Regions from separate parts of the Homo sapiens genome. Here regions 2, 3 and 4 are each reported to be linked to region 1. The links are microRNA targets in miRTarBase. Many come from high-throughput screens and were not tested one by one. Region 1 holds a microRNA gene; each other region holds the end of a gene's coding sequence. Distances are from middle to middle.
The links. Region 1 holds the annotated microRNA hsa-miR-4699-3p (AAUUUACUCUGCAAUCUUCUCC, at 2,320-2,341, opposite strand). A microRNA usually pairs through its seed, bases 2 to 8, with sites in the 3' UTR of a target mRNA and lowers its output. Matches are read on the target gene's strand: a 7mer-m8 pairs with bases 2 to 8, a 7mer-A1 pairs with bases 2 to 7 and ends in A, and an 8mer does both.

Region 2: miRTarBase lists NUP54 as a target of hsa-miR-4699-3p. Seed matches in the 3' UTR shown: 8mer at 1,996-2,003.
Region 3: miRTarBase lists EDEM3 as a target of hsa-miR-4699-3p. Seed matches in the 3' UTR shown: 7mer-A1 at 2,201-2,207, 7mer-m8 at 2,225-2,231, 7mer-m8 at 2,767-2,773, 8mer at 3,756-3,763 and 7mer-A1 at 4,105-4,111.
Region 4: miRTarBase lists GOLT1B as a target of hsa-miR-4699-3p. Seed matches in the 3' UTR shown: 7mer-A1 at 2,839-2,845.

What each region holds. Positions count from the first base shown.
Region 1 is chr12:81,154,290-81,160,773 of GRCh38, reverse strand. It overlaps MIR4699 (microRNA 4699), which reads right to left and starts at 2,386; the gene lies at 2,313-2,386. The region is part of intron 7 of ACSS3 (acyl-CoA synthetase short chain family member 3); the gene reads right to left.
Region 2 is chr4:76,110,524-76,117,007 of GRCh38, reverse strand. NUP54 (nucleoporin 54) reads left to right here. Exons shown (of 12, transcript NM_017426.4): 12 at 1,514-2,344. The coding sequence ends at 1,642. It overlaps ART3 (ADP-ribosyltransferase 3 (inactive)), which reads right to left. Exons shown (of 12, transcript NM_001130016.3): 12 at 4,222-4,622. The coding sequence ends at 4,489. Among named protein-coding and RNA genes, the nearest start is that of NUP54, 35 kb to the left of the region's middle.
Region 3 is chr1:184,688,135-184,694,618 of GRCh38, reverse strand. EDEM3 (ER degradation enhancing alpha-mannosidase like protein 3) reads left to right here. Exons shown (of 20, transcript NM_025191.4): 20 at 147-4,382. The coding sequence ends at 556. Among named protein-coding and RNA genes, the nearest start is that of EDEM3, 63 kb to the left of the region's middle.
Region 4 is chr12:21,515,274-21,520,273 of GRCh38, forward strand. It overlaps GOLT1B (golgi transport 1B), which reads left to right. Exons shown (of 5, transcript NM_016072.5): 5 at 396-3,135. The coding sequence ends at 434. Among named protein-coding and RNA genes, the nearest start is that of SPX, 8.5 kb to the right of the region's middle.

The DNA of each region.
Region 1 (6,484 bases):
AAGTGAAAGTTTTCTTCAGTAAATATATTTGAAGAATCAGCATTCCCTAACTATGAAAAGAAATTGGAATAAATTCCAGAGTTAAAAAATAAAATAAGTTACCAAATAATATATTTATTCAAGAAAACCAATTAAAGTGAAGAAGATTCACAAAAGTGAAAATTGAGACAGTGTGTGTCAACCCTCTCATTTTAATGATTAAAAAATGAACTACCAAAGAGGTTTAATTAATTTGCTTAAGTCATATAGGTACATAAAGGCAGAGCAAGATAACCACACATATGTTAGTATTTCTAGTCCAGCGACCATACTCCTGTACCATCATTCAGAATTTTAAATCCTCACCTTTCTCTAATTCAATTTATTGCCTGAGAAGGCAGAGTATGGCATATACCTTCAAAGTTAATTGTTGAATTATTAACAAATAGCCATCTGCCCTTGCTAATCTAGTAAACATACTGAAGAATTTATTGAAAAGGCTTGTTGCTGTGATGTATACCATATGTGAAATACAAACAAATGTAAAATGAGAGCAAACTTATATCCCTTGACTGGAAAAGAAGACTGTTATTACATAAAAATGACAACTGCTATATCAAGACCAATTATACCAACCAGTTTATGGCTTACTCTAAAGCCGGATTTAAGGAGAAACAGTAACTACTAACATTCCATTTTAGACCTACGTAATACTCTAGCCAAGGAACAGTAATCTCATTTCTTGCTTAACCACACCACTGTCATTGTGGAAGCCTGGGCTTACTGTATCATGAAATTGAAATATGTGTACAACACACACTTTTGCACATTGGTAGACAGCAAAGATAAGGAGAAAGGCAGGACACGGAAAGATTTATTTGCCTTAGAGAAATGTGTTGGATTTTGATTCTGCAGATGACAGTCTGGTAAAGGGAAGAAATACTAGAAAGAAGAGAGAGGCAAGGGAGCATATCTCTGTATAATCACCATTTGCCATCACACACATGTGAATGCGCATACACACTAGGCTGTTAGCTAAATTTGTTTGTACATTGCATTCCTATGTGAAAAGATTGCTTGTGTTTTATCCCTTCTCTTTGGCAAAACCATCCTACCAAATATCTGTTCTTGTTCATACACGGTTAGGGTTAGATCTATTGGAATCACTGCTCTATTAATGAAGTAGATTTCTAAAGAAGTACCATTCAATTTTTTCCTCTCAAAAGTAAAGACTAAATTATTCAGAATTGGTTTCCATATTTTAACTGGTCAATCCAATTTTCCTTCAAGAATTGCATACTTTAAACATCTCATACTGCACTGACTGAGCTGGCCAGGTGTTTTGTATTTAAATATGTCCAATTCCATTGATAAAAGTAAATCTCTGTCTATAAAACATATATCCTGACTTATTCCTTTATTATTTGGTAACTTTATTATTCTTTCCTGGTTTTGGGCATATTTTGTTCCTTTTTTCCTAGGTTCTTGAGATAGGAGCTTATATTCTTGATTTGAGTGTTTTCCTCTTTTCTAATCTATCTATTTAGTGCTATAAATTTCCCTCTCAGAAAATAAACTACTTAAATACAGGTGTTCTGTATTTAAATATGTCCAATTCCACTGATAAAAGTAAATCTCTGTCTATAAAACATATAACCTGACTTATATAAGTTGCTCATGCAGTCCTGTTGTAAAAAAAAGAAAATTTAAATTACTCTTACTCATTGATAGAAAAAATCTTTACGTATAAATCAAGTTTTCTTCTGATATTGTCATTCAGGCATTTATTTAACAAATATGTATTAAATACTGAATATGTGTCATTAAGGCAAGGAGCTGAGAATTGACGGTGGACACAAACTCAGATGACTCCTTCCTTAGTACAGTTAGAGGAAAGAAGGGCAAACGAACACATCAAAGGAGCCTAAAGACTAATATGAATCTGCAAGTTTTATACAAACCACCAAGGGAAAATGCAATGTGCTAAAAGACCATGATAAAGGGATTTGACCTAATCAGGGAGGTCAAGGAGGGCTTCCCTGAGGAAGTGACACCAGCTGAAATCTAACAGACAAGTAGCATATATTTCAGGCAATGTTCCTGGGACAGGAATGAGCATAAGAATAACTGCAGGGAAACAGGAGCATGTGGTACATTAGACAGGAGCACGTTGTACCTTGGAAGGAAAGAGAATGATTAGGATCGAGCAAATGGCCAACACTTTCAAATGCTGAGGAGTCAAGCACAGTGAAGACTGAAAATGCCCATTGACTTTGGCAAGTAGAGATGACTGGGGATGTTAGGAAAAGCTGTAGCTATGGAATGATGGTGACAGCAATTGGAGAAGATTGCAGAGTAAATTCCATTTCTTAATCAGGAACTTACTCTGCAATCTTCTCCAATTGCTGTTGAAGCTGTTGAGTGTAGACAAGGCCTTAAAGAGAGAATGTTGTAGCTGTCAGGAGATAAGGGATTAGAGATTTTTGTTGTTGTTTGTTTTAATGAGGTAGTTTTATGAATTTGTTTGAAAATGTGGTAATTATCAGGAAAATAAGCAGATTTACATGCAGTTGTAAGAAGTAATACAGAGATATACCCTTTAACCAGTTTTCCCCAGGTGTAAAAACTGCAAAACTACAATATGTTATCACAATCAGAATATTGATACAGTCAAGATACAAACCAGTTCATCTCTACAAGGATCCTTCGTGATGCCCTTTATGGCCATATGTGGCCATTGCTGATTTATAGAGACACAATGAATATTTGTATGTTAATCTTGTATCCTGAGACTGGGTTGAACTCACTTATTAGTTATGGGATTTGTGTGTGTGTGTGTGTGTGTGTGTGTGTGTGTGTGTGTATTCTGTAATCATTTATGCAAATAATCATGCCATCTGCAAATAAAGACAATTTTATTTCTACCCTTCTGGTGTGTATGCCTTTTCTTCCTCTATATTTCTGTTTATATTTATTTATTTATTTTTTGAGAGGGAGTCTTGCTCTGTTGCCCAGGCTGGAGTGCAGTGTTGCGATCTTGGCTCACTGCAACTTCCACCTCCTGGGTTCAAGCGATTCTCTTGCCTCAGCCTCCCGAGTAGCTGGGACTATAGGTGCGCACCACCATGCCTGGCTAATTTTTGTATTTTTAGTAGAGATGGGGTTTCACCATATTGGTCAGGCTGACCTTGAACTCCTGACCTCATGATCTGCCCGCCTTGACCTCCCAAAGTGCTGGGATTACAGGCGTGAGCCACCGCGCCCAGCTTCCCTATACTTCTTTATTAAATGAGCTAGAACTTCCACAGATATGTTGAATAGAGGGTGAGAGTGGAAATACTTGCCTTGTTCCTGAACAACAGAGGAGAAACAATCAGGCTTTTATGATTAGGTATGATATTAGCAGCAGGTTTTTTCATAGGTGATCTTTTGTCAGGTTGAGGAAGTTCCTTTCAATTACTAGTTTTCTGATAGCTCTTCATTATGAATGAATGTTGAATTTATTAAACAACTTTTTCTACATCAATTAATATGATTATATAATTTTTCTGTAGCCTATTAATATGGTAGATTACCTTGATTAATTTTCAGATATTGAAGCAGCCTTGTACCTCTGGAATAAATTCCACTTGGTCACAGTGTATAATTCATTTTATAGATTGCTGAATTGTTGAATTCAAAATATTTGCTAATATTTTGTCAAGAATTCTTGTATCTATATGTTTATGAAGGACATTAGTTTGTAGTATTTTTTTTTGTCGTTGACTTTTTATTAGGGCAATACAAGCTTCATTAAATGATAAGGAGAGTGTTCCCTCCTCTTCTATTTTCTGAAAGAGACTGTGAAGAAATGGTATTGATTCTCCCTTAAACATTAGTAGATGGCACATGGAATACAGAAATACCAGCCACCTGCCTCCTCTTCTATTTTAAACATTGGTAGAATTTTCCAGTAAAACCATCTGTGTCTGGAGATTTCTTGTTGGGAGTCTATTTAATTACATATTGGATTTTCTTAATAGTAATAAGGCTATTCTAGTAATTTATTTCTCATTTGGTGAGTTTATGGTTTTTGAGGAATTAGTCTATTTCATCTTCATCTAAGTTGTCAAATTTATGTGTGTTGAATTTCTCATAGTATTCCCCTATTACACTTTTGATGTCTGCAGCGTCTTTAGTGATATCTACTGTTTCACATGTGGTACTGGTAATTTGTGTCTTCTGTCTCTTTTCTTTGCTAGGCTTGTAGAGGTTTGTCCATTTCATTTATCTTTTCAAAGAAATAGTTCTTTTTCATTAATTTTCTATGTTTTTATGTTTTCAATGTTATTGATTCCTGCTTTTACCTTTATTATTCCTTCCTGGTTTTAGGTATATTTTGTTCCTCTTTTCCTAGGATCTTGAGATAGGAGCTTATATTCTTGATTTGAGAGTTTTCCTCTTTTCTAGTATATCCATTTAGTGCTATAAATTTCCCTCTCAGAACTGCCTTAGTTGTGTCCTCCAAAATTTTATATGATGTACTTTCTTTTTCAATCAGTTTGAGATATATACACCCAGAGACGTGTGTGTGTGTGTGTGTGTGGGGTGTGTGTGTGTGTGTGTGTGTTTTCCTGGATATTTCCTATTTGACCTATGGATTATTTATTTAGAAGTATATTGATTAGATTCCAATTGTTTGGGGATTTTCCTGTTAACTCTTTTTAATTTTTAGTTTGAAAATACTGTGGTCTTAAAATAGACTTTGCATGACTTCAAATATTTTTAAATTAGTTGAAGTTTGTTTCGTGGCCCAGGTTTTCGTTTATCTTGGTAATTATTCTGTGGGCATTTAAAAAGAATGTGTATTCTGCTGCTGTCGAGAATAGTTTTCTATGAATGTCAATTAAATCTTGTTGGTTGATGATGTCAAGTTTTTCTACATCTTCACTGACTTTCTGTCTGTTGTTTTATCAATATTAAGAGAGAAGTGTATCTAATGATAACCTGAAATATGTAACTGGAATGTATAGGCACACATCATATCAGAAGCCAAAACATAGAATGGACATAAGTCAACATGACATATTTGTGCATGAGCTGAATATCAGCCCTGAATACATGTCAAGAGGCATGGAAAAAAGAGGACACTTTTGATAAGTACTGAATAAGTAGATTCAACAAACTGTAATGACCAGCAGAGTGTGAGATGCAAGGAAAATGAACTTAAGAATCACTTGCAGATTCTCAGTTTGCATTACTGCATGAATGGAGGTAACATTAACAGAAACACAGAGTGCACTGAAGGAAATATGGTTTGCAGGGTGGGGTGGAGATACAGAACTCAGTTCATGTCATCTTGGGCATAAGATGTGCACAGACTATTCAGAGATGTCTAACAATAGGTTAGTACTCAGCAGGAAAGGCAGATATAAAAAGGGGATTTAGAAGCCATGATTTAATTAATGATCCTCAAATATAAACTGCTTGGAGATTATCCAGGAAACGTAAGCAGAATAAGAAAATAGAGCAAAGACTATGATCCTGCTAAACTCTAATGTTAAGGACCAAAGTGAAAGAAACAAAGAGAAGAAAAGAAGAACAAGCTGTCAGGATGGAAGAAAGAAAACGAGGAGTAGAGTATAATTTAGTTCCACAAGTATTTATTAATTGTGTAGTGTGTGCTATGCACTGTGCTGTGAAACTGGCTTTTATCCTCTTCGAGATGATACCCTCTTCTAGACATAAATGTATCATTTCAGTATAGTGTGGCCAGCTCAGTGACAGACATATGCTCGAAAGCAACGGGACCACAAAAAGGGGCACTGCACACAGCCCAAGAACGTGAGAGAAAACTTTCAAGAAATTATAACATCTAAGCAGAGTCTACAAGGAGAGTAGGAGTTAACCAAGAAAGGAAAGACAGGAGGAAAGTCACACCAGAAAAAAGAAACAACATGAACATTAGCCAAAGAGCCTGGAGCTCAAGAGAGAGGAAAGGATCACCTAAAGGAATGGTCTGCAGGGCTGAACTCTAGTAAGAGAAAAAATAAAATCAGATTAAACAAGGCCCTTTGACTTTGTCACTTATGAAGTCACTGGTGACCCCTGCTGCAGCAGCTTCTATGAAATGATGTGAACATAAATCAGACTACGGTGAGATGAGGAATAACTGAAACAATATGAGGTTCAGGAATCTGGGCAGGATATTTTTTCAAGGAATTTAGTGGAGAAGAAAATAAAGATGGCATAGTTGAAGCAGGCAAAGGTCTAAAAGACTTGGTTTTGTGACCAGAGAAAGTCAAAGACATTTATAAGTTGTAGAAAACAAGCCAGAGGGCAGAGAAAAGGTTTTAAATAGTAGCTTACTTCAGTCAATTATTCACACAACAAATATTTATAGAGCATCTACACTCTTCTTGAGCAAATCATTCCAACATAGAAACAAACAACCCTCCATCACAGTGTTAATATCATGTTTCAAATAAACTTGAGAAACAATAAAAGCCCATGGTAAATAGCGCAA
Region 2 (6,484 bases), not on the chromosome of region 1:
TGCACAACAGCATAAATGTACCTAATGCCACTGAACTGTATACTTAAAAATAGTTACAGGCAAAATTTTATGGTATGCCTGTTTTGCCACTGTTTAAAAAAGTGAATTATCCCTCTCCTCGCCAAAAAGATGAATTTAGAGGTAGTAGAGACACTAAAGTTTCCTAGACCTTGCTCCTTAAAGTGTAGGTAGTAGCCGCACCTGGAAGGTCATTAGAAATGCAAAATTTCAGTCCTTACTCCAGACGTACTCAATCTGCATTTTATCAAGATCATAGAATGATTTGTATGCACTTTAAAGTTTGAGAAGCAACTGCTCTAGATAATACCTTCCCTGCCTATATGTCGCATGTAAGTTATAAACATTTGGTTATTGATCTGTCCCCTAAGCTCTCAGGAGATCTGGATGGAGGTAGGTTGAGGTGGCCAGAACCTCCAACCACTTTTCTAGGGTTTTCACATTGTGTGAAAAAGTTGGGAAACACTGCTTTGGCTTATTTTCATTAGTATAAATGCAGATTGGTTTAATGAAAATGAACAGTTGTATCTAAAGAAAATATATGAAGATGATGAACTTTGTGGAACATACTAGGTAGCTAATGACTGTTGGCATGGCCCTGAGGATTTTAGATAAAGATTATAAATGTCATCAACAAATCCAATTTTATTATGTTAGAATGGATATGGCTGGTTTTATGCAACCAAAAACTACTTTGGCTTCCAGGTTCTTGGATATTACACACATAACCAATTATATTCCATTGTTTTAAGTATTTGCAATAAATTAACAGGTTCCAGTATATTGAAATAAATAGTTGTATTAAATAGAGTTGATATATGCAATAAAACTGGGAATAATTTAAACACCTGTCTTTTTTAAAATTATGAGCAGTGTATTGTTTTGGGATTGAATCATGGTTCACCATCTACTTTATGACCTTGGGCAGGTTATTTACCTGTAGTTTCTTTAACTGTCGAGATGATAATGGTACCCCAAAGGGGGCTCAAAAGGATTTTAAATGAGTTAAGTGAGTGAATACCAGTACTGTTAAAACAGCACCTTAACCCATGAGGAGGAGTCTTAAAAAAATGTTAGCATCTGTAGTCATCACCACCATTATCACTATGTACTTTGTACTTCAAAACATGAATATTCTCAGTTTTCAGAATGTTATTTTGCTAGTCATCTATATTTGAATACCTCCTTTGAGTTCTGTTTTATTATCATGCCTTTATCAAAAGTTGGTAAAAGGAATAGCTATCTAAAAAACATTTTTGTTGGAAGATATTGTTCATTATATATTTGTTTGATTTTATTGTTCTTTAGAGTTTGTCTTTCACTGTTAGCAAAAGATGTAGTACAAATGTTTAAATATGCATGCCCTCTATATTTAGAGCACTTACTAGGTACTGTGTTGCTAGTAAAATAGTCAAAGTGGAGTCTTTTTTCCTGTGACTAGCTTGCAGTTTTAAGAAATTAATACATTAATATGTTGTTTCTTAATTTGTTCTAGCATTTGAAACAACAACAGGAAGGCCTTAGCCATTTGATTAGCATCATTAAAGACGATCTAGAAGATATAAAGCTGGTCGAACATGGATTGAATGAAACCATCCACATCAGAGGTGGTGTCTTTAGTTGACAGTTCACAAACTTGTGTAAAGGTTTGTGAAATGCATCTTCTTACTGCATCAGACCTTCCTTAAGAATGAAACCGACCACATGGAGGGAAAAAGAAAACAATTCTTTCTTGGATTGGTTTTTTGAGAAGTTTACTGACAAATTACTGTTCATCAAATCTGAAATAGTCACCTCACAGCTCTTCAAAGAAAACCTTTGAAAGATTTATATCTAAAAGCTGTATTTACTTTAAAAGAAGTGCATAATTACCAAAATTGTATGTACTATTGTACATTTTTACAACAGCATTTTCTTAAACATAATCTGTGTTTAATGATTATTGTCCATTGAGCCTGTACTCTGCTTTCCATACCAAGTAAATATGAAATAATCTACTTTGCACATAACAGAACAAACTATAATTACTTGGCTGTTGGAGATTTGTACTTGAGTATAAATGTACACCAGTTTTTGTATTTGTGAACTCATCTGTGGGAGGAGTAAAGAAAATCCAAAAGCATTTAATGTTTTGTTTTTGTTCTATAAAGATATGAAAATGTATTTTTATATTATTTTACTTATTTGGAATTTACAGAGCACACCTAAGCAATTAGGATATAACAAAACTACTTAACCATTTTTGCAACCATTTTGTTTTTTAAGCCTTTTTATTTCTAAAAAGATGAAAACTTATAAATAAATTCTTAATTTGTAATTACTTTTATATAATTCTGTCTGGTGCTTTATTTGGCTTTTGAGGAATGACCATTTTTTGTCCACATAGGTACTAAATTCATAATCACAAGTCAGGAATTTTAGTCTTAAGTCTTATTTTTGCCTCCTAGGGATTTTTGTCAGTGCTGTTATATTTTGATTAGGGTATGGCAAGTAAAACTTACTTCAGATATCATCTAGTATTAAGAATTCCCTAATATGTCATTAGTATTCGAAATACTAGAAAATCTGAGTTAAACAGATTAAGTAGTGTTAAATAGTGGGTCTTTAACCAGTGGATCATTTTAAACAGTATTTCTGACTACACTATATTTGGGCTGCATCATGTTGGCCGCTTTTGAGATGCTTTAACTTTGCACTTCTCTGTGATGCTTTGGCTTGTATTGACAGGTGTTAGAAGAAACAGGCCCATGAATCTTGCTATTGTATTTACTATGGGGATGGTGAAGAGTGTGATGCACTGTATATCTATCTGGAGTCCATCCTCTGAGAATCCACTGAAGAGATTTCTCCTCAGTTGTATAGGTTACAGTTGTGTAGACTAGGATTTTTTGTGGGTTTTTTTTTTTTTTTTTTTTTTTGAGACAAGTCTCTCTGTCACCCAGGCTGGGGTACAGTGGCACAATCACGACTCACTGCAGCCTTGACCTCCTGGGTTTAAGCAGTCCTCCCACCTCAGACTCTTGAGTAGCTGGGACTACAGGCATGCACCACCACAACTGGCTATTATTTTTTATTTTGTGTAGAGATGGGGTCTTGTTATGTTGCCCAGGCTGGTCTTGAACTCCTAGACTCCAGCAATCCTCCTACCTTGGCCTGCCAAAGTGCTAGGATTACAGGCCTGAACCTCCATGCCTGGCCAAGACTAGGAACTTTAAAACTGATTGTTTCTTTCCAAATTGACTGCCAGAAGTATGCAGCTACTTTTGCCAAGTTTATGGTGTGTAAATTTGTTACACTACTCTACTACCCTCTCATCATTCTTTCCTACCCATTATATTGCAATACCAACAGTGTTGGGACAGGAATTTCTTGCCTTGTCCACATTTTCTCCGTGGCCCAGAAGATCTGCATGTCCATCATTCTTACCCATGTAGCCAAGTATAGGAGTTTTTGTCCCTCTGCACACCCCCTTATAGTAGGAAGAGTTGTTGGTCTAATTGATGAGAATTGTTACTCACTGAGCTATATAATCTAGTGGATGGATCACTCATCATGCATACCATGGTCGCTTCTCTAGCCTTTGATTTTTCATGTTCTAATATTGCTGGTTGCTAGTTCAACCAGATAAATATACCAGACAGGGCCTAAGGTCAGCCTTTTAAAAAGGCAGGCCCAGTCATCCTGTTGGGTTTCTGTCCCACTGGTGACTGCATATATAAGGCAGGCCTGTGGTCCTTGAGCATATAACTGGTGAGATAACTAGACTCAGTTATCGAAGCAAGTGTTATAGACTGAGTAGTTTGTGTTCTCAAAAAATTCATCTTGAAATCCTAACACTCAATATGGTGATTTTAGGAGGTATGGCTTTTGGGAGGTCATGATGAGGGTGGAGCCTTCATGAATGGGATTAGTGCTCTATCTCTCTTGTCCCTTCTGCCATGTGAGATGGTGAGGAAAGGACAAGGAAGAGGACACTCACCAGAAACTAAGTCTGCTGGCACCTTGATCTTGGACTTCCCAGCCTCTGGAACTGTGAGAAATAAATAAATGTTGCTTACAAGTTACCTAGTCTACAGTGGTCTGTTACAGCAACCCAAACAGACTAAGACAAAGAGATGAGTAGACTATCCTTAAAGTTCTAATTCAGATATTAAATTGATGTTAAACACTAACAGTATTGAGCATACTGGCAATTCTGAAATATCTAATCAAAATCTTTTATTGAATTTAATCAGAAGTATACAGTTTTCGGGATTTTTTTCCATTGTAAGAGTAGTATACAAGTGAAAAGTTCTGTGACATATATCTGGACCAACTTTCTGAATTTGCAAAATGAATAACAAATATACAATTCTCATTTTATCCAGTGACTTTGGCCAACACGTAAAAAATACATCATTCCTTTTGATCTCCTGTGGATCCCTATAGTTATTTCAAGTAAAGAATAAGAAAGATAAACAATGCATCAAACTACAGAGCAACAAAGAGATTTATAGCAGAAACACTGATTAAAATGATGACCATCCCAAACTGTGGAAGCAGCAGTTTGCCCGAGGATGCAGAAGGATGGCTTTTGGGACCTGGAACAGGAACTGGACCTGGAGCTGTTAACAAGAATACACAGTCACTGACACATCATTTTTTATGTCAAGTATCATCCACCTATAAAATATATCCTGAATATGTAAACAATGACACTAAAGTTGAAGTAGAAACTTACCTGAAATACTTCCAGCCAAAAGCAATTTTCAAATAAGTGTAATTCATTACAGATTTCAGGCTATATTTCCATATACAGTTGACCCTTAATACGGGTGTTGGGGTGCCAACCCCCACACAATGAAAACCTACATGTAACCTGATTCCCAAAAACTTAACTACTAATAGCCTACCATTAACTGGAAGCCTTACTGATAATAGAAATTGTTGATTAACATATTTTATATGTTATATGTATTATATACTGTATTCTGGTTGGGGCATGGTGGCTCACACCTGTAATTCCAGCATTTTAGGAGGCCAAGGCAGGAGGACCACTTGAGACCAGGAGTTTGAGCCTGGGCAACATAGCGAGACCCCATCTCTATTTTTAAAAAGATAAAAATAATTGATTAGCACATATTTTGTAAATGTATTATATACTGTATTTTGGCTGGGCGTGGTGGCTCACGCCTGTAATCCCAGCACTGTGGGAGGCGGAGGCAGGCACATCATGAGGTCAGGAGATCGAGACCATCCTGGCTAACACGGCAAAACCCCGTCTCTACTAAATATACAGAATTAGCCGGGCGTGGTGGCGGGCGCCTGTAGTCCCCGCTACTCAGGAGGCTGAGGCAGGAGAATGGTGTGAACCTGGGAGGCAGAGCTTGCAGTGAGCAGAGATTGCACCACTGCACTCCATCCTGGGTGATAGAGCAAGACTCCAGCTCAAATAAATAAATAAATAAACTGTATTTTTACAATAAAATAGAGAAAAAATATTAAAATCATAAGGAAGAGAAAACACATTTACAGTACTGTACTGTATTTACTAATACCCAAAGTTTACATCATCTGTTTATAAGATGAATTATCTGTCTGAAATGGCTGGCAACTGCAGCTGCAGACCTGAATCTATATATCAAGCAATTCAACTTTTTCTTGTAATGTCATGGCTTCTCTCTGCTTGTGAGACTTCCGGCCTCACTAGTGGCACTTCCTTTGAGTCCTATGGTGTTATTCAAGGTTTTTGGTATTGCACCAAACATGACAAAAAATACAGGAGAACTGTGAGAGATCACTTTTTGCTGTGATGTGCAATTTACTGGAGATGAACTCCTCAGAGATGTTTAGCAACACATGGTGTTTTAAGAGGATACTCGAAACATTTGAACTCACTGCAATAGCAACAGGAGGTGGCCATGAAATGATTACAATGATACAGTATGTATTATAGTTAATTTTATGCAGTTAAGTTTTAATACCGCATCTTTACATTTACGTTTCTTTTGATTTTGAATGGTGCCACATATGGTCTGTGTGCACAAATTTGGATAAATACTAACGTTTTACAATAGATTTGTGTATGTTTTATGGTAGTAAATGATAAAAATAGACTAGCATCTACATATATTTTATGCATTCATGACATACTTTCTTTTTATATATATATATATTTCTAGGTCATGCAGTTTGTCTGCAAGTTTCTTCAAATTGATGCAAATATCCAAAAAGATTTCCAATATATTTATTTAAAAAAAATCCATGTATAAGTGGACCCATGCAGTTCAAACCTGTGTTGTTCAAGGGTCGACTATATATCATCAAGATCTGCTACGCTAGGTTTTATGTAGGATTTCACATGCTTTTACATTTCTATATAGCCAATATAATGATTTTCTGTTGTTCAAGTTCTCTAGCATTTTTTTTTAGCAATTTTTCTATTTCCATTTTCTGTATATACATGCAAGGTAAAGTTTAACTCTGT
Region 3 (6,484 bases), not on the chromosome of region 1:
TTCAGTGCTGATGCTCACCTTTCTGCATTAACATGAGTCTCTTTCACGTTTTATTTCATCTTGTTGCAAAAACCAATATGCTTTGGAAAGTGTAATAGTACATTTTTTTAGAGAAGTAGCATGAGGTTTGTTTCTTTCTCATACAGATCCTGAAATGGAAAATGAAGAACAACCATCCTCTGAAAATGATTCTCAGAATCAGAGTGGTGAACAGATTTCATCAAGTTCTCAGGAGGTTGATTTGGTTGATCAAGAGTCTTCTGAGGAAAATTCTCTAAATTCTCACCCAGAATCATTATCTCTAGCAGATATGGACAATGCTGCAAGCATTTCCCCTTCTGAACAGACTTCTAATCCCACAGAAAACCATGAGACTACAAATCTTAATGGTGAATGTACAGATTTAGATAACCAGCTTCAAGAACAATCAGAAACTGAGGAAGATTCCAATCCTAATGTTAGCTGGGGTAAAAAGGTCCAGCCTATAGACTCCATATTAGCAGACTGGAATGAAGATATAGAAGCATTTGAAATGATGGAGAAGGATGAGCTATGACTTGCTAAACAATCTGTTGGTAGGTATTTAAAAAGAAAAGGTAAACTGTGTGTGGTTAATAGACATCCTAATACTAAGCAGGCTTTCTAATGGGAGGCTTTAAGTATGGTGATGAACAACCACGTTCTGACTGGCGTAGTTATCGTAGGAATCTGGAGCATGCTGTGTTAGAATTGACCTTGTTTAAAACTGTCCCATCAAAAATGGAAATCCACAGTTCCCCCTTCAAATGCAGCACTGCACCACCCTGCAACACCTCAGGCCAGGGAAAGATTACTGAGCATTCCTGCGAACCAGATTTCTGTTGTCTCTGGATAGACAAGAAACAAAATTCATTTAGTAGTGGAGTGGGGAATAGGAGTTTGGATAGCCTTCTAATTAAAGGAAGCTCGCCTTTCTTGGTTTTGGGGGTTAGAGGCTCTTTTGGGAAGATGCATCCGAGTATTGTGGCATTCTGATTATGCTGCCTTCACAAAACACTCTAAGTGACCTAAGTGGTTATGAAGCAAATGCATTTATGGTGAAAACAGTCTTTGCTCATTGCTTTCTCTTGTTTCATTTAGTGACAAATGATCAAGATGACTTGATTTTTTTTCCTTCTTAACAATGTCTTTTTTATTTAAACCAAAGGTGAAGCCAGTGTACTTTCTCAGTGAGTTCTCTGCATAAAGACTAATCAGTGGGACCAGGTAAAAAGGTCATATAATACATTGTGGAGATTGCTTACTTAATACTTCTGAAAAATGGAGTAAGGGAGAAACTGTAATGTTGCAATATGAACCTCCCATTGGGCCTTCCATAGGGAAAGCTGTGACTACTCTGAAATGGAACCTAGCATTATATCCTTGTAGGGTAGATTATAAATCATTTCCAGTTCATTTCTCTTAGAGGTGATTACCTCTAGCCATCAGCCTTACTCCATCCCATGTTTGGTATGCAATTTGAGCCACAAGGCTCGTATCGCCAACAGCTATATACATTTTGTTCCATTTTTCTGTCTTACAGAGCCATGATAGAACTGTGGTTAGTGAGTTAAAATTCCTGGAGTAACTACTGTTTTTCTCCTTTGAAACTTAGGTTTCTAAAGTTGCACCTAAGGAATCTGTCACATTTTCTGTTGAATCATGGTTTTTGTTTTTGTTTTTAACAGATATTCCTTCTGATACGGACTTGAAAATTAGTGTATGGTGACCTGTGTTTAAAAAAAAAAGTACAATACAACTACATATAGCTATATAGCTTAATGAGACTTCCACCCCCCCCCTTTTTTTTTTTGGTTTGTTGTTGTTGTAGTAGTCTGGTGCTGGCCACATTTAAGTCTTAAAAATTTTTAAATTTTGTTGTTGATGTTTGTAGACAGCCCTGTTGTTGAAATCATGGCTTTATTCATTTTATTTATTTTTTAAACTTGCCTGAATTTGTTCTAAAGGAATATTTAAGAGACATAATTTTCTTCTCTTTACCATAACATTACACAAAACTTTTTCCTAAAACACGGTTGTGAGGTACTGATGAGGTGTAAGTGGAGCTGTTAAAAACAGCAGTGCTGTATTGCAGTTATGTATATTCGTGTACAGTATGTTTAGATCCCAGGTAAACATATTCTTTTCTGAGAGGATAAATACCTGCATTCAGATATTCCAGGTAAATATAATTGAGTCAGGGAGTAGTAAATCTGATGGAGAATTCACTTTGGGGAGGGGAAAAAGAATAGTATGCAAGACCCTTATTGGCTTTTAATTATACCTGAAACCAAAATGGATATTTTTAGTCTCTCTGCATGTGAGATTTGGTGTAACAAGATAGAACTATAATATATACAGTATATGGAAGGATAGATATAGTGCTTTGTTCATTTTAATTGCAAAGCTGCCAAAATAGTTGAAGCTTAATTACTTGACTTGCCTTGATTTATAGGACTGGGGCTTGGAGAAAATGAGCAGATGTTCCTCTAAGACATCGATTACAGAAGCCTTATATACATGGATTTGATTTTGTATTTGTAGCTGAAAGTCACTGTTGTCTAAAACTAACTTTTCTAAGTTATCAAAACAACCTAATTTCTTTTCCAACAAGGAGAACTTAATGGCATGAAGGATTGTGTGACACATTGGAAAAGCCAGCTTACTGCCACTCTCTTCCTTTGGCCATTAGAGGGAGGTGTTGCCTTTCATTGACGCTTAGAAGCAAATTGTTCACTTGTTAAGAAAAGTAAATCCTTAAAAAAAGAAAAGGAAAAAATTTAACCAATTTTTCTTAATACCCAGAAGGAATTATACTCAATATTTCCCTAGTTAAGAAAAGAGGAGATAATGTTCGTCTAAAAAACTCCAACGTTGTAATTACAACTCTACATTCATTTACTTACTTGACATACTGCCACAAAGTAGTTTTTGAGTTCATTAAAAATTCCAAAGGCATTAGTTGTTTTTTTTTTTTTTAGTGTTTTGTTTTTTAGTTAACTTTTATAGACATTTTAGTAACTTGCTAAAGATTCAGGGGATTCTATGAAACCCCGAATTTAGAAACATCTGGTCTACCTCAGTTAAATGTTGACTGCTTAGAAATATAGCTGAAGTGATCACCACAGCCATAAAATTGTTTAAGAAAGATTTATATAATGTTTACAAATCTGGAATCAAGGATTTTAGCTGAAATCCTTTAAGAGATATTAGAGCAAGTATTTAATTCAGGTATTTTCAAGTTTTAAAACTTAACCTGTTTACCTACTAAAAATAAAATAGCTAGTTTTTTTCTGCATATAAAAGTTCATTGAAATGATATGCCCTTATTTGCAATACTTTTCCCATAAAGTTTTAAGTGTGAAAGAATTGTAATTTACTAGATATGTTTGGTATGGGATATTTTGTTAGGCAAGTTTTCTTTTTTCTTCTTAAATTGCAATAGGCTTCCAAAAAGAGTATAATTGTTTCAGAACAAATTAACTCTTGGCATTATACGTCTCCCTTTTTCTTTACAGTATTAGTAAAAAGAAAAATTGTACACTTTCTGATTTTAACTTCACTAATGTAATTACTCTCTCAAGAAGCTTTTAAAATTTAAATTACCATCACACAACCTTTTTTATAGTAAAGCCAACATTTGTTCTCTCACCAAACCCCATGCCAAATTCATCATGAAGAAAGCTCAGCATAAGTAATTCAAATACTGCTTATAATTTTAGAGGGGGGTAGAATTTAGTAAATATTCCAGCCGGTCGTTTTATGCACAAGGCTTCAGTCAGAACATAGAAAAAAAAAACATTCTGTGAATGAAATATTGTATGTTCAGATTTTATAAAAGACATTTTTAAAAGCCCAATTTACAGCCGTATATTTTCTTATGATGTAATTTATGAAAAAGATGTCTGTACTAACAGGTGCTGTAACACTACTGTTGTTGGATTTTATTGTTTGGTGATAAATGTATACAATATTTCTAAGGGAAACTATGTACTGTGATGTAAAAGTCTGGGCAAAATGTATATAATCCTGTATATAATTATGTATTTGATTATAATTACTGATTGTAAAGATTTAATAAAATATGTAAATATTCCAGTTTAGTTTTAATTTGAATTTTTAGAATCACTGTGCATATCCTCATACTTTTATGTCTTGATGTTTATCACTCTGTTTTCCTTTTTTTTTTAAACTCATTTTATCCTCCGGGGATTGAATTCTGGGGACATTTTAGGCTGTAGAAACCCAAGCTTGTGGGCTAAAGTAAGGATTTTGTTCTAAGAAATCACTGAAAGTTTTTCAACAAGTCAGTAGCATGCACAAAGGTAATGCTAAGTGAATAAAACTCTAGAATTGTGTATAAATTATGATCCAGCGCTTGCTCACTCTCTCCATACACATATATACATACACATTATATATATATACACACACATATATATAATGACATTGACTCATTTATTCAACAAAGATTAAGGGCGTGCATGCCTTCTGTATGCCAGGCACTATTATAGGACCTGGGGTTGTAGTGGACAGATGGACAAAATGTGGTAAAGAAGATAGAAAATAAAGTAGTAAGTAAAAAGGACAATGAGTTTATGAAGAAAAAATTATGGTGAGGGGATAGAGAGTGGTGGAAATCATGGAGTGAGTTAAATAGCCAAAATACTAACAGTGGTTATCTTGGATTGTAGGCAATTGCTATTTCCTTATTTGTATATGTCAGTATTTTCATAAGTTTCCAAAATAAGCATTATGCTTTTAAAAATAAGTAGTTTAGGTCAGCGAAAGAAGAGAACATGAAAAATACACACGAGGTGGGGCATAGTGGTGCACACCTATAATCGCATCTCCTCCTCAAGAAGCTGAGGTTGGGAGGATCGCTTGTGCCCAGAACTTTGAGACCAGCCTGGGCAACAGAGGAGACCCTGTCTCAAAAACAAAACAAAATCACCCCAGAATCCTCCTATCTCATGTTTCTGCACGATTCAACCAATCCCATATGTACTGCACACCTACCATGGACATAAGCAGCATTTGGCTGGGACTCAAAACCTTGAGAGATGAGGTTTACCAAGAAAACTGTGTGGAATAGGGAAGAGAGAAGATCTAAAATAGAGCCCTGAGATTCCTAGAATCTGGGGACAGCAGAGGAGGAAGGACTTTTGTAGAAGGGAATGAAAAAGAGCAGTTGGAGAAGTGGGAGGAAAACAAGGCTGAAGCAGTGTATAAAAACCAAGAAAGCATTTCAAGGAGGGAGTGGCAAATAGCCTGAAACCCCTAAAAAGTAGTTTCTTGGTTTTAGCAACCTTTTCTGAAGTCCCCTACCCCACTAAATAGCCGCAGGAGACAGTGGGTACTTGATGCAGGCATACTGTTGCTATGGAAGAATGTGTGGCTCCATCTTTTTAATATTTGAGAAAAACCAGAAATTCAGGTGAAATCTTATTTTAAAACATTGTTCAAGTTAAACAAAATATATGTGACAGCAGTGGTCTCCAGTTTGCAACCTCCGAGCTGTCAGATCCTTACCTCCACATGTGTATGTACAAGGAAGACCCCATTCGTTTTTAGAGGATCATTCACCAATTTCCACTTCCAAATTTATCATATGCACCATAGACCTCTTTCAACTGTTGAGATTTTCATATGTCTTAATGGCCCTGGTGGTGATTAAGTGGCTTTTTAAATGTAGATTATTCATTTAATCAAGTAGGTCAATGGAAAGTGGACATCCATTCATTCACCTTCCTACAATTACTCTTTTTAAAAAAATTTTTGAGACAGGGTCTCACTATGTTGCCCAGGCTGGAGTGCAGTGGCTGTTCACAGGTGAGAACATAGTGCACTGCAGCATTGAACTCCTGGCCTTAAGCAGTCCTTCCACATCAGCCTCCCAAGTAACTGGGATTACAGGCACCTGCCACCATGCCTGGCTTCACCTTTTTACATTTTCTAATGTCAACCTTTGAGACCATCTTTAACCTGAGGCAATGAAAGTTTGTCTCTTGAATCCAGTTCAGGTCTTTCTTCCATCAACTGGTCTGGCCAGACTGCTGACTCAACTTCACCCCACCTTCCTTCTGTGGTTCCTGGTGGCTCGCTGTCTCCAGGAGCCCCATCCAAGCCACATACTCCCCTAGGGTGTATCTGTAAGCTTCTGCTCAGCTCAACAGTGGTTCCTTCAAGTTCCAGCAACACCTCAAAGAGGACTGGTCCAGGCCAGCTCTCTAATAAGCTATATGAACACTGGTATCATCCTTGCAGTCCTAATAATAAAAAGAACCAACACTTTTTCTTTTTCGAGACAGAGTTTTACTGTGTCATCCAGGCTGGAGTGCAGTGGTGCAGTCTTGGGACACTGCAACTTTTGTCTCCTGGGTTCAAGCAGTTCTCCTGCCTCAGCCATCCTAGTAGTTGGGATTATAGGCGTGCGCCACCATACCCTGCTAATTTTTGTATTTTT
Region 4 (5,000 bases), 60 Mb from region 1:
AGTTGAAATATCTTATTGGGTTCATTAATGCATGAATGGCTGACATTTCAGTTTTTTTTATGTTTTTATTTTTTATTTTTTGTTAAGCTAGCAGTGTTATCTTCATCTTATACAATTTCTTTATTCATTGTGTTGCATTTTTCATGTTGCACCCTTAAATTCATATGTATAACATGTCATGCAAAAAACAACTTTTAGAAAAAAAAATTTTATACACGTTTATGTATCAGAAGATGATGGTGAGTAGTACTGGATTAGTCATTGTCAGTCATACCTTAAATTTCCACAACTCTTCTTGTAAGGCTGGGTTTTTAAAATCAACATTTTAAATATTGATATAATGTTTTATAATGTTCCGGGCTTTCTTTAATTCTCTGTTTTTCTTCTCCTTACAGTTTGTAGATAAAGTTGGAGAAAGCAACAATATGGTATAACAACAAGTGAATTTGAAGACTCATTTAAAATATTGTGTTATTTATAAAGTCATTTGAAGAATATTCAGCACAAAATTAAATTACATGAAATAGCTTGTAATGTTCTTTACAGGAGTTTAAAACGTATAGCCTACAAAGTACCAGCAGCAAATTAGCAAAGAAGCAGTGAAAACAGGCTTCTACTCAAGTGAACTAAGAAGAAGTCAGCAAGCAAACTGAGAGAGGTGAAATCCATGTTAATGATGCTTAAGAAACTCTTGAAGGCTATTTGTGTTGTTTTTCCACAATGTGCGAAACTCAGCCATCCTTAGAGAACTGTGGTGCCTGTTTCTTTTCTTTTTATTTTGAAGGCTCAGGAGCATCCATAGGCATTTGCTTTTTAGAAATGTCCACTGCAATGGCAAAAATATTTCCAGTTGCACTGTATCTCTGGAAGTGATGCATGAATTCGATTGGATTGTGTCATTTTAAAGTATTAAAACCAAGGAAACCCCAATTTTGATGTATGGATTACTTTTTTTTGTAAACATGGTTAAAATAAAACTTTTGTGGTTCTTCTGAATCTTAATATTTCAAAGCCAGGTGAAAATCTGAACTAGATATTCTTTGTTGGAATATGCAAAGGTCATTCTTTACTAACTTTTAGTTACTAAATTATAGCTAAGTTTTGTCAGCAGCATACTCCGGAAAGTCTCATACTTCTTGGGAGTCTGCCCTCCTAAGTATCTGTCTATATCATTCATTACGTGTAAGTATTTAACAAAAAAGCATTCTTGACCATGAATGAAGTAGTTTGTTTCATAGCTTGTCTCATTGAATAGTATTATTGAAGATACTAAATGATGCAAACCAAATGGATTTTTTCCATGTCATGATGTAATTTTTCTTTCTTCTTTCTTTTTTTTAAATTTTAGCAGTGGCTTATTATTTGTTTTTCATAAATTAAAATAACTTTTGATAATGTTTACTTTAAGACATGTAACATGTTAAAAGGTTAAACTTATGGCTATTTTTAAAGGGCTATTCATTTAATCTGAGTTTTCCCTTATTTTCAGCTTTTTCCTAGCATATAATAGTCATTAAGCATGACATATCCTTCATATGATCACTCATCTTGAGTTAATTAGAAAATACCTGAGTTCACGTGCTAAAGTCATTTCACTGTAATAAACTGACTGTGGTTTCTTAAGAACATGACACTAAAAAAAAAGTGTTTTTTTTCCACCGTTGCTGATTATTAGACAGTAGGAAATAGCTGTTTTCTTTAGTTTTACAAGATGTGACAGCTTTAGTGGTAGATGTAGGGAAACATTTCAACAGCCATAGTACTATTTGTTTTACCACTGATTGCACTGTTTTGTTTTTTTAACAGTTGCAAAGCTTTTTAATGCATAAAAGTATAATTGAAATCTGTGGTATTTATTTACAAACATGTCTACAAAAATAGATTACAGCTTATTTTATTTTTAGTTAAATCTCTTAATACACAGAGAACTCCCAATCTTGCTCATCTAAATAAGGAAAGACTTGGTGTATAGTGTGATGGTTTAGTCTTAAGGATTAAGACATTTTTGGTACTTGCATTTGACTTACGATGTATCTGTGAAAATGGGATGATATTGACAAATGGAGACTCCTACCTCAATAGTTAATGGAATAATAAGAGGCTACTGTTGTGTCTAATGTTCTTCAAAAAAGTAATATCCTCACTTGGAGAGTGTCAAATACATACTTTGAGGATTGACTTTATATAAGGTGCCCTGTAGAACTCTGTTACACATATTTTTGACCCATATTATTTACAATGTCTTGATAATTCTACCTTTTTAGAGCAAGAATAGTATCTGCTAATGTAAGGGACATCTGTATTTAACTCCTTTGTAGACATGAATTTCTATCAAAATGTTCTTTGCACTGTAACAGAGATTCCTTTTTTCAATAATCTTAATTCAAAAGCATTATTAGACTTGAAAGGGTTTGATAATCTCCCAGTCCTTAGTAAAGATTGAGAGAGGCTGGAGCAGTTTTCAGTTTTAAATGAGTCTGCAGTTAATATCAAATGTGAGTTTGGGACTGCCTGGCAACATTTATATTTCTTATTCAGAACCCTTGATGAGACTATTTTTAAACATACTAGTCTGCTGATAGAAAGCACTATACATCCTATTGTTTCTTTCTTTCCAAAATCAGCCTTCTGTCTGTAACAAAAATGTACTTTATAGAGATGGAGGAAAAGGTCTAATACTACATAGCCTTAAGTGTTTCTGTCATTGTTCAAGTGTATTTTCTGTAACAGAAACATATTTGGAATGTTTTTCTTTTCCCCTTATAAATTGTAATTCCTGAAATACTGCTGCTTTAAAAAGTCCCACTGTCAGATTATATTATCTAACAATTGAATATTGTAAATATACTTGTCTTACCTCTCAATAAAAGGGTACTTTTCTATTAATTGGTGGTCAAGTATATCTGTGTTATGAAGTTCTAAAAGCTAATTTAGCATTGCAAAATAACCTCATTTTTAAAAAATTAGCCTTATATGCAGTGTTCTATTTATCAAATGATCTTCACATCTTTCATTTCCAAATTGTTGAAATGTACTAATGAATACAAATAGACTTCAAGTAAGCAAAAATGTTCTTAATTTTGAAAACTGTAAAATAAAGTCACTTACCTTGGGCAATATGCTATTTTTTAAAAATCAGACTCCCAGTTTGTATATTATGTTATTCAATAGACATTTTCTGAGTACCCCTTGAATACTAAAAGTCCTGTGTTGAATGTGGGAGACCCAGGAGAACAAGATATGTGCCATCTGCTCATTAAGTGCTTAGAATGTTAACATTGCTTTTAAATTCTTAGCCGTATTTCCACATAACTTGTCCTGACTTACACTGCAAACAAATGGTGGTAGAAGAATTTGCAGTCGAAACACCCCAACCTCTTATTTTTCTCCCAGTCAAGAGTTACTAGAACTATTCAACCTTCAGCTGTGTTGAATAGTTTTAGTAACTCTTGACTGGGAGAAAAGCTGTGTGATTGGTTCGCATTTTCAAAAGATGTCTGGAGGAAAAAAAATAATACCAGCTTTAACTCTGGGAGGTTTGTTTTGAGATGTAATTTCTTTTGCAAGTCTGTATATGTATTCAACTTAATGTAGCGTATGTTTTTGGTTTCTTTGTGGCAGGGGGAAGAGAATTGTTTTTAATGTAGGCCTAGGGATTTAGAACTGTCACTGCTATTTGTGTTGTCTGGAAGCCTGCCACCAAATCTGTATTGCCACAGGCAGTTGGGGTAGTTTTCTGAAAGCTGCTATGATTGCTACCATTAATTGCAAAGTTTAAAAAGCGGTGAGGGAATTTAGAAATTAGAGGAGAAATGCTTATATATTTTTTCTCAGGATGGAAAGGATCTTAAGTTTTTCTCACCTAAATAAGACCACAACACCTACATTGTTTTAACTGTAAATTTTATTAAGGCCGAAAAAAAACACTGGCCAAGTCTACCACTTAACATACCCAGTAAGTATTTGTTGAATTCACTAATTAAGCTGCAAATCCAGACTATTGTTGGGTAAACGGGAAGTCTTGAATCTGTTATTAAATATCCAGCATATTTCTCTAATCTTGACCTGAGCCAAAAGGCCCCAACCTCAGTTCTTCTGTTACCTGTATCCATGTAGGAGATTGGACACTAGCAGCATGCCCAAAATTCTTCATTGACTAACATGCGTTTCCATGACCTTAGCTTTACTCAATTCTCAAGGCCTGATTAAAATGTCACTGCTGTCATATCTTTCCTTACCAGCTAGGCCCAAACAGTTGCTCCTTCCCTGTCCTCTCATACAACTTTCCACTTGCTTTGTATTGATTTGGTTATGGAAAAGATTCTTGAGGTTCGAAATCTCCTCTTTGATTTGTATCTCCAGTTCCTGGCATTTAGTGGGTGCCCAGTAAGTGGTTTAATGAGTGAAAGTTCATTCTTCCAGCTCTTCTGGTGCTGGCCCCACTGATCACTTCTTTTTTTTGTTTGTTCGTTTTTGTTTTTTGAGACTTGCTCTTGTCACCCAGGCTGGAGTGCAGTGGCATGATCTTGGCTCACTGCAGCCTTCACCTTCTGGGTTCAAGTGATTCTCCCGCCTCAGCCTCCTGAGTAGCTGGGATTACAGGCACCCGCCACCACACCTGGCTAATTTTTGTATTTCTAGTAGAGATGGGGTTTTGCCATGTTAGCCAGGCTGGTCCCGAACTCCTGACCTCGTGATCTGCCCACCTCGGCCTCCCAAAGTGCTGGGATTACAGGCTTGAGCCACCATGCCCGGCCTGATCACTTCTAATATATTGAAATCAGCCTCTATCAGCCGTAAAGTTAAATCTAATGATCTGGCCCCCGCTGAAGTCCACCTTTCTACTTCACATTCCTTAGGACTTTACTGTACCCAGTAGCTTGTCAACGGAGAGAGGGATCATAGATAAAAGAAAGACCATGCCTCCAGATTGGCTGCCCTTCTTCACAAAAAAGGGAGGCCGCTGGGGAAACCAGAAGCTACTCCTAAAGTTTTGAGGC